2 linked regions of the Homo sapiens genome follow. The protein of the gene in region 1 interacts with the protein of each later gene in a pairwise test. Each region holds a gene or a part of one and is shown on either strand. Other genes may lie near its edges.

Region 1 (7,041 bases):
AAAAAAAAAGTACGGTGATTGTTACAAGCACCCATTATGTTATGTTAACATTTCTTCAGAGGAACTCTCCAAAGAGGGAGATATGTGTTGAGTTAATTCATTCATTTGCCTTTGCACAGAAATACTCCTCATTAATTGTTGATAAATTTTGACACTTGCAGAAAAAAAGTTTGCTCTGGATTTAATATTGGCATAATTCCTTCCTCGCTATAAAGAGCTGTTTGTTTACTCCTATTACTAACTAAAGAGAACATGGTTAAGTGAAGACCTCATAAAGTTTTTCTTTTTTTTCTTTTTTAAAGCCCAGTGGCAAGCACTCTAAAATTTAGCAAAGAAAGAAAACCCTAGTGAATCATCTTATTTGCTGTTTCACCTCTCTACTTCTAGACTTACAGACAATTAAGTGAATTACCAAGTAGGAACTCTTTGTTGATCATAAAACCAGTATCATAGATTTTAAAACTTCGAAGCCATACATGGTAGTGTGTGCCTGTAGTTTTAGCTCCCTGGGAGGCTGAGGCAGGAAAAATCAGTTTTGCCCAGGAGTTTGAGGCTGTAGTGTCCTGTCATAGTGCCTGTGAATAGCCACTGCATTCTAGCCTGGGCAATATAGCAAGACCACGTTTAAAATAATAATATTAATAATAATAATAATGATAATAGAACTTTAAAAACTGTCAAGGTAAGCCTTGGGAACTTTAATTGCAAATGACCTGTGAAAAATATTTAACAGTTAAGCTATTGGTGCCTTCATTCTCCAGTCTTCACTGGAGATTAAGAACACTGTGATACTAGTTGTATGGTATGGTTCATGGAAATTTCAGTTTTGCTGTTGTCTTGTGTAGGCAACTCTTTCTGTCTTTGGATGGAATCCATTCTGCACTGGCAGGAAGACCATCTTTCAGACCTGGCATAGTGTAGTAACCATGGTCTCTTCCCAACACTGACTCTGCACTGTTCTCCCACAATTAATTTCTTTCTTTCTTTCTTTCTTTCTTTCTTTCTTTCTTTCTTTCTTTCTTTCTTTCTTTCTTTCTCTCTCTCTCTCTCTTTCCTTTCTTTTCTTTTCTTTTCTTTTCTTTTCTTTTCTTTTCTTTTCTTTCTTTTTTCAAGAGATGGAGTCTCTCTGTGTTTCCCAGGCTGGTCTTGAACTGCTGGCCTCAGGCGATCCTCCTGCTTCCCAAAGTGCAGGGATTACAGACATAATCAGGCTTTCTATTTTCTTAAGCAAATTTACAACTTCAGGAGTAAAGAAACAGGACCACAGTCTATTTGCAGTTAAATAACTTAGGTAACTTAGATAAAAGAGATTGTGGTGTAGAAACATACTGTTTTGAGAGACTTGGGTTCTAGTGCAGGTATTGTTACTAACTGGCTAGTTGACTTCTGGCAAGATTTCTGGGCATTATAAATGAATAACATGGATAGACTCATTTCCTCTGGTTCATAATACCAGAGTGCCACTTATAACCTGGCTGCCTTGGCTTCCATTTATATATTTATTTAATATTATTTAATTCATTTAAATAAATACATTTTACATTAGTTTATTTAAATAGGTAGATAGATTGTCAGTCTTGCTCTATTGCAGTGGTGAGATCATAGCTCACTGCAGCCTTGACCTCCTGGACTCAAGCAATTCCCCTGCCTTGGCATCCCAAGTAGTTGGGATGACAGGCACGCATGTCATTCCATGGAATTAGCCATGCCCGGCTAGTTATTTTTAATTTTTTTTTGTAGAGACAGGGGCCCCCTTTGTTGTCCAGGCTGGTCTTGAGCTCTTGGGGTCAAGCTATCCTGCCTCAGCCCCCACAAAGTGCTGGGACTACAGGTGTAAGCCACCCTGCCTGGCGGCTTTCTATTGTCTATTTTCTTTCTTTCTTCTTTTTTTTTTTTTTTTTTTTTGTTATATTGAGACAGAGTCTCGCTCTGTCGCCCAGGCTGGAGTGCAGTGGTGCAATCTCTGCTCACTGCAAGCTCCGCCTCCCGGGTTCACACTGTTCTCCTGCCTCAACCTCCTGAGTAGCTGGGACTACAGGCGCCTGCCACCATGCCCGGCTGATTTTTTGTATTATTTTAGTAGAGACGGGATTTCACCATCTTAGCCAGGATGGTCTCGATCTGCTGACCTCGTGATCCGCCGGCCTCGGCCTCCCAAAGTGCTAGGATTACAAGCGTGAGCCACTGCGCCCGGCCTTTTTTTTTTTTTTTTTGAGATGGAGTTTCATTCTTGTTGCCCAGGCCGGAGTGCAATGGTGTGATCTCTGCTCACCGCAACCTCCACCTCCTGGGTTCCCCCGATTCTCCTGCCTCAGCCAGCCAAGTAGCTGGGATAACAGGCAAGCGGCACCATGCCTGGCTAATTTTTATATTTTTAGTACAGGCAGGGTTTCTCTATGTTGGTCAGGCTGGTCTCGACTTCCTGACCTCAGGTGATCCTCCCACCTCCACCTCCCAAAGTGCTGGGATACAGGTGTGAACCACCGTGCCTGGCCGGGCTTTCTATTTTCTTGCCATTTTTTTTTTTTTTTTTGAGACAGAGTCTTGCTCTGTCACCCAGGCAGGAGTGCAATGGCGCGATCTTGGCTCACTGCAACCCCCCACCTCCCAGGTTCGAGCAATTCTCCTGCCTCAGTCTCCTGAGTAGCTGGGACTACAGGCGCGCGCAACCATGGTTGCCCGGCTAATTATTTTTTTTTAATTTTTACTAGAGATGGGGTTTTACCACGTTGGCCAGGCTGGTCTCGAGCTCCTGACCTCAGTTGATGCGCCCGCTTCGGCCTCCCAAAGTGCTGGGATTACAGGGGTGAGCCACCATGGTTGACCTCAGGCTATTTTCTTAAGCAAATTTGCAACTTAAGAAGTAAAGAAATAGGACCAGAAGTTGTTTAAAGTTCACAGTGGGTACCTCTAAATCTATTAGTTATCTATTAGTGATTGTATAATTTATACTATATAAATTGTATAATTCTACAAAACAGGATGCTCTTTGAGAGAGAGAATTGTATTGAAATAACAGACTTAAATCAGGTCTATCCTGCTCAAACTTGGATTTACTGTTACTCTGTTAATGAGGTAAAGGAATTCCATCCACAGAATTTTGCCAGGAAGTTTATTACTACAGTTAGAAACATAGGAAACACAGGGGAGAATATTTCAGGACAGAAATTATGAATTTTCTCTACATTACAACCTGCACATCTAAGTGAACCAGATTCTTGATGCCTCGGCCCTTGTGAGAAATTTTCTTCCACTTTTAGGATGATTTTGATCATGTGTTGCTGTTTCTAGAAATCCAGATGAGGCACTCTTCAGCCAAAGTTGCTGCCCACCCAAGAGGCCTTTTATCTTGAAATTTAGTCATGAGACCAGAAGGAACTTCTCCCATCTGTGTCCTGACTTGGTATTAGTTTTATTTTGGATACCTCCTTTTTTTTTTTTTCTTTTTTTGAGATGGCGCCTTGCTCTCGTCGCTCAAGCTGGAGTGCAATGGAGCAATCTCATTGCAACCTCCATCTCCCGTGTTCAAGCGATTCTTCTGCTTCAGCCTTCCGAGTAGCTAGGATTACAGGCGCTCGCCACCATGCCTGCATAATTTTTGTTTTTGTTTTTGTTTTGAGATGGAGTCTCGCTTTGCCACCCAGGCTGGACTGCAGTGGCACAATCTCGGCTCACTGCAAGCTCCGCCTCCCGGGTTCACGCCATTCTCCTGCCTCAGCCTCCCGAGTAGCTGGGACTACAGGCGCCCGCCACCTTGCCCGGCTAATTTTTTGCATTTTTAGTAGAGACGGGGTTTCACCACGTTAGCCAGGATGGTCTCGATCTCCTGACCTCGTGATCCACCCGCCTCGGCCTCCCAAAGTGCTGGGATTATAGGCGTGAGCCACTGCGCCCGGCCAATAATTTTTGTATATTTAGTAGAGATGGGGTGTCACCATGTTGGCCAGGCTGATCTTGAATTCTGGACCTCAGATGATTGACCCACCTTGGCCTCCCAAAGTGATGGGATTGCAGACATGAGCCACCACACCCGGCTTTTTTTTTTTTTTAAGAGACCGAGTCTCACTTTGTCACCCAGGCTAGCGTAGGAGTACAGTGACACAATCATAGCTCACTGCAGCCTAGAACTCCTGGGCCCAAGGGATCCTCCTGCCTCAGCTTCTCAAGTAGCTAGGACTACAGGCATGTGCCACCATGCCTGGCAAATTATTTTATTTTTGTTTTTTAAATTTAAAAATAGAGACAGTATCTTGCCATGTTGCCTAGGCTGGTCTCAGAACTCTTGAACTCAAGCTATTTTTATTTTTTTTTTGAGACAGGGTCTCACTATATTGCCCAGGCCCAGTCTTGAATTCTTGGCGGCCTCAAAGGATTCCCTGCCTCAGCCTCCCAAAGTGCTGCTATTACAGGTGTGAGCCTGGCCTGGCAGATTCCTTTTTTTCCCTCTTTTAAATAATTTATTTTAAACCTATTATATCACACAGTATGTTTTATACACTGACATATAACCCCCTAACAAGATAAAGCAAAGACAAAAAAGTTTATCTTATTAGAAGGAAGATACACCATCACTTATTCTCTTCAAGCATTATTGCACTTTAACTTTTCTTAACTTGACAAAGCATTCATGAAGCAGTCTGCAGACTAGTTTTAACAGATAAATAATACCTGTAAGCAGACATGATTGTCCTAAATTGTTTATTAGGTATGAATTTTACAAACTTTACTTATATTGGCTGTAACGGTGGAGCTGGAGAGTATTGCGCCTTCTCCAAGCTCCCTGGTGAGAACCACCAATAGTGTGGTGGCACTTAAGGCCCTTTCCAAGGCTATGGCTCTTTCGGCCTGCAGATGGCAGCCCATGCATCTTCCTATGCTTGTGGACTGGTTTGGTGATCCATTGGGTGTCAGGATTTCTTCTGATAGCTTTATGGAATGGATCAATGAGGATAACCTCAAAAAACTTGTATGTGGAATCTTCACCAACCCAGTGAGAATTCAGGACTTTTAGAGCCCCACAGTGGCATCCAGCTTGCCGCTTTGCAATGGACTGAAGACTTTGAGCAAACTTTAGCTGGTTAACACCATGATGGACAGGCTTGCCATAAGTTGCACCCTTAGGAACTGGGTGCTTTCGGCCACCATGGCGAACACGAATCCTATATATAACATAAACTTGGTTGGCCTTGTAGCCCAGCTGGTGCGCTTTATCAAGCCAGATGGGGTGGGGAGCCCTGTGGAGAGCAGAGAGCTGGTGGTACTGCCAGCAACCAACTCTCAGAAGAAAGTGCATTTTCTCCATAGCTCCTGGATTTACTTGTATGCCCCCATCTTGGCTTACCTGATGGCTGCTGCTAGACAGAAGGGGCACGGATTCTTTTATTAAAATCACAATATGGGTTTATTAATCCCTTACTTGTATTTATGGTTGTTTTTTGCCTATTAAACATCAGCATTCTAGTATAATTTCCATTCTTTTACTCATAACAATATGATGTTTAAAAAATACTGATTTTTTTCTGTCTTTTTTATTCTTATTTTTCTCGAACCCTATGTTCATCATCAACCTCTTTTCTCCTACTATTTGGTTCATCAACCTTATTTTCTCCTGTTTGGTTCCTAGAAACCTCAAGTAAGCTTACTGTTGTTACCCTAATGAAATACCATTTTAAGTAAGTTATATAGAAAAAATGCATAAATATATTCTCCTTACAAAAATGAAAAACTTTGATGTCATCTTAAGATAATTTACTGAGGCCGAGCGCAGTGGCTCACACCCGTAATCCCAGCACTTTGGGAGGCTGAGGTGGGCGGATCATGAGGTCGGGAAATCGAGACCATCCTGTCTAACACGGTGAAACCCTGTCTCTACTAAAAATACAAAAAAAATTAGCTGGGCGTGGTGGCAGGCACCTGTAGTCCCAGCTACTTGGGAGGCTGAGGCAGCAGAATGGGGTGAAGCCGGGAGGCGGAGCTTGCAGTGAGCAGAGATTGCACCACTGCACTCCAGCCTGGGTGACAGAGTGAGACTCCGTCTCAAAAAAAAAAAGAAGATAATTTACTAAATCTAAACTCCTTTTAAAAATTGCTGAGGACTGCCCGGGCACGGTGGCTCATGCCTGCAATCCGAGCACTTTGGGAGGCTGAAGTAGGCAGATCACCTGAGGTCAGGAGTTCGAGACCAGCCTGGCCAACATGGTGAAACCCTCTCTCTACTAAAAATACAAAAATCAGCTGAGTGTGGTGGCTGGCACCTGTAATCCCAGCTACTTGGGAGGCTGAGGTGGGAGAATTGCTTGAACCCGGGAGGCGGAGGTTGCACTGAGCCAAGATGGTGCCATTGCATTTCAGCCTGGGCAACGAGTGAAATTCCGTCTCAAAAAGAAAAAAGGCTTAGGATGACCGGCTGTAGTGGCTCATACCTGTAATCCTAACACTCTGGGAGACCAAGGTGACCGGGGTTTGAGGACAGGAATTTGAGATCAGCCTGGGCAACATAGTGAAACCCTATCTCAATTAAAAAAAAAAATAGCTAAGGAGTGGTCCTAAATATGGCTGACATAGTTGATTTAGAGATTTACCTGTTGATTATCTTGATTTTTTTCATTTTTGTATCTAGAAGAAACTGAACATTTTTATACATATGTCTTATATCCATGTGTGCCTTTCTCTAGGGTAGATGCTGAGAAGTAGAATTGTTAGGTTATAGGGCATTTTTTAAGTTTATGAGTCACTTTTTATTTATTTATTTTTTAATGTTTTTATTTTTATTTTTTATTTTTTGAGACAGAGTCTCGCTCTGTCGCCCAGGCTGGAGTGCAGTGGCGTGATCTTGGCTCACTGCAAGCTCCACCTCCTGGGTTCATGCCATTCTCCTGCCTTAGCCTCCTGAGTAGCTGGGACTACAGGCGCCCGCCACCACACCCAGCTAATTTTTTGTATTTTTAATGGAGACGGAGTTTCACTGTGTTAGCCAGGATGGTCTCGATCTCCTGACCTCGTGATCCGCCACCTCGGCCTCCCAAAGTGCTGGGATTACAG
Region 2 (7,041 bases), on another chromosome or scaffold:
TTGGTTTTAAGGAGCAGTCCCCCGAAGGCAAAGGTGCTGGCACCAGTAGCACCTCACTGCAGGAGGCGGAGCTGCCGGCCTGGGTTAGCTGAAGCCCAGCCCGGCTCTCACTAGCTTTGACCGTGGGCAAGACGCCACCTCTGGGTCGTGTTCTCAGTGGCAAAATGGAGCAGAGGGCAAGGCATGGTGGGGTGAGAGTGGTGTCGAGGGGGACAGACATGCGCCCCTCACACCTGCCCCCCCCACGGCCCAGCTGCAAGCAGCAGGTGGGACAGCGGCTCACTAGCCTGCCCTCCCCTTCCCCCACTCCTTCCAGGGGGCTCAGCACCCACAGAGACCCTCCAGCCTGGACTCCCGAGTGGGAGGGTCTGGGAGTGGGAGGAGTGGCTGAGGGTGACCCTGGACCAGAGCTCAGCTCTCTCACCCCAGCCCTGTGAAGCCCCCCATGAGCCTCAGCCCAGCCCCTCCCCGCCCCGGTAGGCTTGCTCCCCCATCACAGCCCCACTGCAGCCCCCACCCAGGCCTGGAGGAGACCCTCCTTCCGAGTTCCCCCAGCCCCAGCACCCCTAGCTGCCCTTGGCAAGCCCAACAAACCCAGAGAAGGCTGACTCGGGAAGAAAAAGCCAGCCCCACTGACCCCGCTGCTGACCCCTGGCTCAAGGCTGCGGGTGCGGGTCTGGGTGAATTTCTACAATCCTGGTTCATTTCTTCTCCCCAAAAGCACCAAGGCTTGCAACTTCCCTCCACCTCCCATCCCTTCCCCGGAGCTCTCCAGCACTCTAGGAGTGCTGCAGGTGGTTTCGGGCACAGAAAGGATCCTGTGAGTGGGAGGCACAGCAGAGGCTCCGTCCCAGCCTCTGCACCACAGTGACTTCACTGGGAAGGAAGCCCACCTCTCGTGTGGACCCCAGAGACCTCTCCCAGGCCCGCAGGCACCATGGGCTCCCTTGGGCGGCTCCTTTATGGGCGTCGGCCCAGCCCACATGGCAGATGCTGGGGGCCAGGGAAGAGTGGCCTGTTGGGCGGGTCTGGGGGGAGTTTCAGGAGCTGCAGCTCCGCCCCCTCCTGGCCCTCCTCAGCTGCTTGAGCCCAGGGAGGCCCCGGCTCTGACATCTTCCTCCCAGGGGCCCCCTTGGCCAGGAAAAGCCAGTGCAGCTGGGTGCACCAGAGCCATGGGGAGGACGCCCCAGTCCACACAGGCAGAGCATGCAGACCCACAGCCCCAGGAGCTGGGCACAACCCAGATCCCACTTCCCACTGGGTGACTGAGACGGGAGGCTTGATCTGTTTGAGCCTCAGTTTCCCCATCTGGAGCGAGGTCTTCGTGGTGTGGTCAAGATTCCGTGGGCTGTCAGGAAGGTCTCAGTGTGTACGGAGTTCGGGAAACAGGGTCAGAACCACTGATGCTGGCCACGTGACCTGCTTCCGGCAGGCTCCATGCTGTCCCCACCTCTGGAGCTCAGCGTCCTGTTGGTCCCCTTCACCAGCAAAGACATCCCTCCCAGCCTCCCACCAGGAAAGCCCCAAGTCTCCCTAGTCCCAGGATCCCTCACCCACCCAACACAGAGCCGCCAACTGTCACCCCCACTCCCTCCGAGGGTGGCTGGAGGCCCCAAAGCCCAGGCGGGTCTGTGGACTGAGCCTCTGCAGCCCAGCATCCTGGTGCTCCGCCCTCCATGCAGCCCCACTAGCCCTGTCAGGGGCCCCTGGGGACGCTGCAGCCACCCCCGAACACAGGCCACACTCTGTCCCACACCCCTTGCTGCCCCACCAGGCTCGGCACTAATGCTTGATCACAGGTGCAAGGGCTCGGCAAGAGTTAGGACACCCTCCTTCCAAGTGGCTCCAGTCACCATCCCCACCCCGGTCCCCATCCCCACCCCGGTCCCCATCCCCACCCCGGGCCCCATCCCCACTCCGGGCCCCATCCCCACCCCAGTCCCCGTCCCCACCCCAGTCGCCATCCCCACCCCAGTCCCCGTCCCCACCCCAGGCCCCATGGCCTCTCTCGGGGTCCCAAGGCCTCTCTCGGGGTCCAAGGCCTGCCACCCTCAGTTAGAGGCACCCCAGCCCCACCCCCAAAGACGCCCACCACCTGACTTCCAGGGCCCCAGGGCAAGTGCCTCTTTCTGTGTTCAATGCACCCTCAAGCCTGGCTTGGGTGGTTTGGCCACGCTGGGATGGGCATGGGGCTGGGCGGCCACCATATTCCACCCGTCATGGGATGGGGTTAGGCGGTCCTGTTCGGGACGGTTCTGTAGAATGATGTTGCACACAGGACCCTCACGTGGGCGTCTCCAGGCTGACCTTTGAGAACCCAGATGCAGCCATGGCTGTTCCGCTCTGTGATCCACTTGGGCTGGGCTGGCCGTGGCGAGGCCTTGGGCATGGCCTCCAGCTGCGAGCCCGAAGTTGGATTTTGAGCAGAGCGGTGCACATCTGAGCAGAGACCAGAGCTTCCCAGGGATGGCCACCATGGAGAGTGGTCCTGGAAGAGATGGGGGGAGGCAGGGGGTTCAGGGAAGGTTGAGCAGGAGGCCAGGCAGGGAGGAGGCCGACACAGTTGTTCAGGTGACGCACCAGTGGTTCCACAGTAGGTTGGGTATGCACACACACAGCACACACACATGCACACTGGCTTGGGCACGCACACACAGAGCAAAAACAGATGCACACACATGGCACACACACATGCACACTGGCTCGGGTGTGCACACACAGCAAACACACATGCACACTGGCTCAGGCATGCACACACATGGCACACACCCGCACACTAGCTCGGGTATGCACACACATGGCACACACACATGCACACTGCCTATCATGCACACATGCCACACACATGCACACTGGCTTGAGCATGCACACACAGCACATACACATGCACACTGGCTCTGGCACACACACATGCACACTGCCTATCATGCACACATGCCACACACATGCACACTGGCTCAGGCGTGCACACACATGGCATACACACATGCACACTGACTTGGGTGTGCACACACATGCACACTGGCTATCACACACACACAGCACACACATGCACACTGACTTGGGCATGCACACACACGGCACACACACATGCACACTGGCAATCACGCATACACGGCACACACACGCACACTCACGCACACTGACTTGGGTGTGCACACACATGGCACACACACATGCACACTGGCTCAGGTGTGCACACACATGGGACACACACTGGCTCGGGCGTGCACACACATGGCACACACACACGCACACTGGCTATCATGCACACACACGGCACACACATGCACACTGGCTCGGGCGTGCACACACACGGCAAACACACACACTCCCCCACCCGACCGCGTGAAGCACAAGCCACCCGGTGAAGAAGTCTGAACTGCAGCGGTTTGTGTGCCACAAACACTGGCTTGCAGAGGCCCAGCCACTTGACCGGTATCCCAACCTCCCAGGCCTGGAGGCCAATCTGTGGGAGGAGGGGGAAGGGTCAGGGGAGGACAGACAGACAGTCACAGCGCCCCCAGGCTCACTCCGCCCAGCCCTGCCTGGGAGCTCTCCAGGCCACTGGGAATTTGGAAAGGTCTGGGAGGGTTTGACGATGAGTGCTCCAGCCCAGGTCCCCAGGCCCAGCCTGCAAAGGCCCCACGGCCCCTTAATTCTGGCCTTAGTCCGTGAGACCACAAGATACCCACTGCCTACCAAGGACCTCCTGAGACCTGTGGGTAGGGGAGGCAGGCAGGGAGGGAGGGGGCCTGTGACCTCTTCAGAGTGGCTCCTACCTCTTCCTGGAACCTTCCAGCATCTGCGTGTGGGAGCCGCTTCCGGGCAGAGGGGGCTGCTGTGGCTGTGTGTGTTTCCGTGTACCTGCAACTGCATGTGTAGCTGTGTCTCTATGTCTGCACAGCTTTGTTGTCAGCATGTGTCTGCGTATACCCATGTCTATGTGTCTCTGTGTGTTGTGTGTGGGCATCCCTGTCTGTGTACATATGTGTTGTATGTGTGTAACTCTGGGTGTGTGCCTGTGTGTTGTGTGTATACATGCTGTGTGGTGTGTCTGTCTTTGTGCATGTGTGTTATGTGTGTACATGCTCTGTGTGTGTCTTTTGCATATATGTGCATGTGTGTTGTGTGCACATGCTATCTGTGTGTGTGTGTGTGTGTGTGTGTGTGTGTGTGTGTGTGTGTGCCTGTGGGACAGGATTGAAGCTGCCACGGCATTGGAGGGGGACAGAGATCCCAGGAGGGAACTGAGTACAGGGCTCTGGTGAGAGGGAAGGAGGTGCTGTGACAGTGGTGTTGGGGCCGGGGTGTGGACAGTGGCATGGTAGGGTCTGTGGGGCTCTTACTGGTGAGGTCTGACTCCCAGCTTCACAGCTGGGCAGGTGCCACCAGCACCATCCAGCTCTTGCCAGGCTTCCCTGTCCCTCCATTGAGGTGCCAGGGGAAGGGCTTATGTGGGGACAGGCCAGGCACTGATGGGCTGGATACCTGGGGAGAACGGGGTGGCTCAGAGGTGCCGGCACTCACCCCAGATGCTCCCTGGCCCCTCCAGCCCCTCCCGCACGGCAGCCAGCACCCTGCCCTCTGGCCCCCGGCCACATACGTGTGGGAGGAAGCCACACAATGTACTATCTCTGTGCCTGCCCGTGGGGTTCGGGAGCCTCCAGGCCACCTCCCATGAGTAGCCCCTACAGCATGGCATGGGGTCTGCTCCATACAGACACAAGGAGCCCCAATCCTCTCCTGGACTCCACAGCCCACAAGCCCTTCCTGAGCGGATCCCTGTCCCCTCTTCCTCCTCTTCAGGATGGACACAGAGGGGCAGTAGAGGCTGCAGGCGTCTCCACAACCCCAGCGCAGAGGGGCCCGGGCCAGGGCCACAGGGAGCCATGGAGAGCTTCATGGAGTCGCTGAACAGGCTGAAGGAGATCCACGAGAAGGAAGTCCTGGGTGAGGGGCCAGGGACAGATGCCAGGCTAGGGAGGGGTCTCCACAGCCCTCACCTAAGGGTCGGAGCAGGCCACTGTGCACCCATGATCACCTCCAATTCCCACCAAGTCAGGGAATGGACCCCGTCTTTTTGGCCCAGGCAGGGGAGTCCTGACCCAAGGCCCAGAGCTACAACGTGGCAGACACCCTGCCTGGGCCCGAGTGCTGACCTCAAGCGGGGATGTCCTCGAGCCACTCCCAGAGTGTGACCCCGAGGGGGAGGGGCACTTTCAAGGGTTGCCACCAACACCTCATGGCCACCTGCCACCCGCAGGCCCCATGCTGCCCATGCTTTGTTCTCCCGTGGGCCGGCCTCCAGCGTGGCAGAAAGAAGTACCCACCCTGGCCGGCCTGCTGAGCTCACCAGGGCAGAGACAGCCACTTCCAGAAACAGGAGCTTATGGCTCTCTGGACCCATCCAGAACATGTCAAGGCACTGAGCTGCAACTCTTCTCTTCCTTCTAGGACACGCCCCAGGCCCCACCCCTGTCCACTTCCCCCACGAGGGACAGGGCCGCAGCCCCCACACCACCCCCAGTCCAGTCCCAGGGCCAGCACCTCCCCGTGGTCTTTCCACTGAGCACCCACACCCACCTGGAGGTCCAAGGACCCGGCTGCCTCCTAGGCAACCCAGAGAGGTGGGGCTGCTGGGGCTAGCCAGGCCCAGGTTGGATCCCCAAGATACGGCAAGGAGAGGGTCTGGTGGGGTCCGCCCCAGAAGCTTATCTTATTTCAACACTAGCTATGACACACACACACACACAAAATGGCCCCTCGGTCCCTCTACCTTTCACAGGTGGCTGGTCACTTGTGGCACCAGGGTCCCTGCTCACCCCCAGACACCCCCAGACAGATGCCGGAGGCAGAGACCCCAGGGGAAGCAACAGATGCTAGGCCGAGACCACCGAGCCTCAGGCAGCCCCGTGCCTGGGCACAGACAGGGGCTCACCTGGCAGGGCTCCCCCAGGGGGTGCAGGGGACAGGAGTGCCACATTGCAGCTCTGCCCAGACCCCGTGGTGGGGACACTGAAGGTGAAGCAGCAGCTGGGCCTGACCCCCCGCCCCTCTGCTTGCTCCCCCAGGCCTGCAGAACAAGCTTCTGGAACTGAACTCAGAGAGGTGCCGGTGAGTCAGGCCAAGCAGGGCCCCTCCTCACAGGGACCACACTGGCCACTTCATCCCCCTGAAGCCCCAGTGTGCCAGCACTACCACCGTCCTATGGTGCAGAAGGGAAACTGAGGCTCAGTGTGGGGGCGGGGGGAGTCACTTGTCCAAGGTCACACGGTGAGCAGGCAGCGAAGCCAGCACTTGAACCCAGTTGCGTCGGCCTCCCAGGGGCGGGGCAAGCCCCCTACTCGGGGCTTCTCCCACCCCAGGATCATGATCAGAATATCAACAATACGTTCACGGTGAGCTGGGGTCATGTCTGGTCAGACACTGGCGGGCGGGCAGGCTCCCTGCGTTCTGGCTTATAGACCCGGCTATGGTCCTGCCTGTGCTGTGGCACTAAAGTGGTGCGTGGACAGGACAGACGTCACAGAGGAGCGTGCAGATGACAGGGGGGGCGGTGTGTGGACAGGACAGACGTCACAGAGGAGCGTGCAGATGACTGGGGGGGCGTTGCGTGGACAGGACAGACGTCACAGAGGAGCGTGCAGATGACTGGGGGGGCGTTGCGTGGACAGGACAGACGTGACAGAGGAGCGTGCAGATGACTGGGGGGGCGTTGCGTGGACAGGACAGACGTCACAGAGGAGCGTGCAGATGACCGGGGGGGTGGTGTGTGGACAGGACAGACGTCACAGAGGAGCGTGCAGATGACTGGGGGGGCGTTGCGTGGACAGGACAGACATCACAGAGGAGCGTGCAGATGACTGGGGGGGGTGCGTGGACGGGACAGACGTCACAGAGGAGCGTGCAGATGACTGGGGGGGGTGGTGCGTGGACGGAACAGACGTCACAGAGGAGCGTGCAGATGACTGGGGGGGCGTTGCGTGGACGGGACAGACGTCACAGAGGAGCGTGCAGATGACTGGGGGGGCTGCGTGG

The links. Proteins that work in one complex are often made in the same cells at the same time.
Region 2: the proteins of LARP1B (region 1) and RBBP8NL interact in binary tests that used the Homo sapiens proteins (3 or more experiments, as listed by UniProt).

What each region holds. Positions count from the first base shown.
Region 1 is NC_000004.12:128,064,282-128,071,322, forward strand, and holds part of LARP1B (la-related protein 1B), read left to right. Parts: intron 1-4,417; exon of another isoform or gene 4,418-5,367; intron 5,368-7,041.
Region 2 is NC_000020.11:62,417,499-62,424,539, reverse strand, and holds part of RBBP8NL (RBBP8 N-terminal-like protein), read left to right. Parts: intron 1-4,809; 5' UTR 4,810-4,892; coding exon 4,893-4,953; intron 4,954-6,074; coding exon 6,075-6,117; intron 6,118-7,041.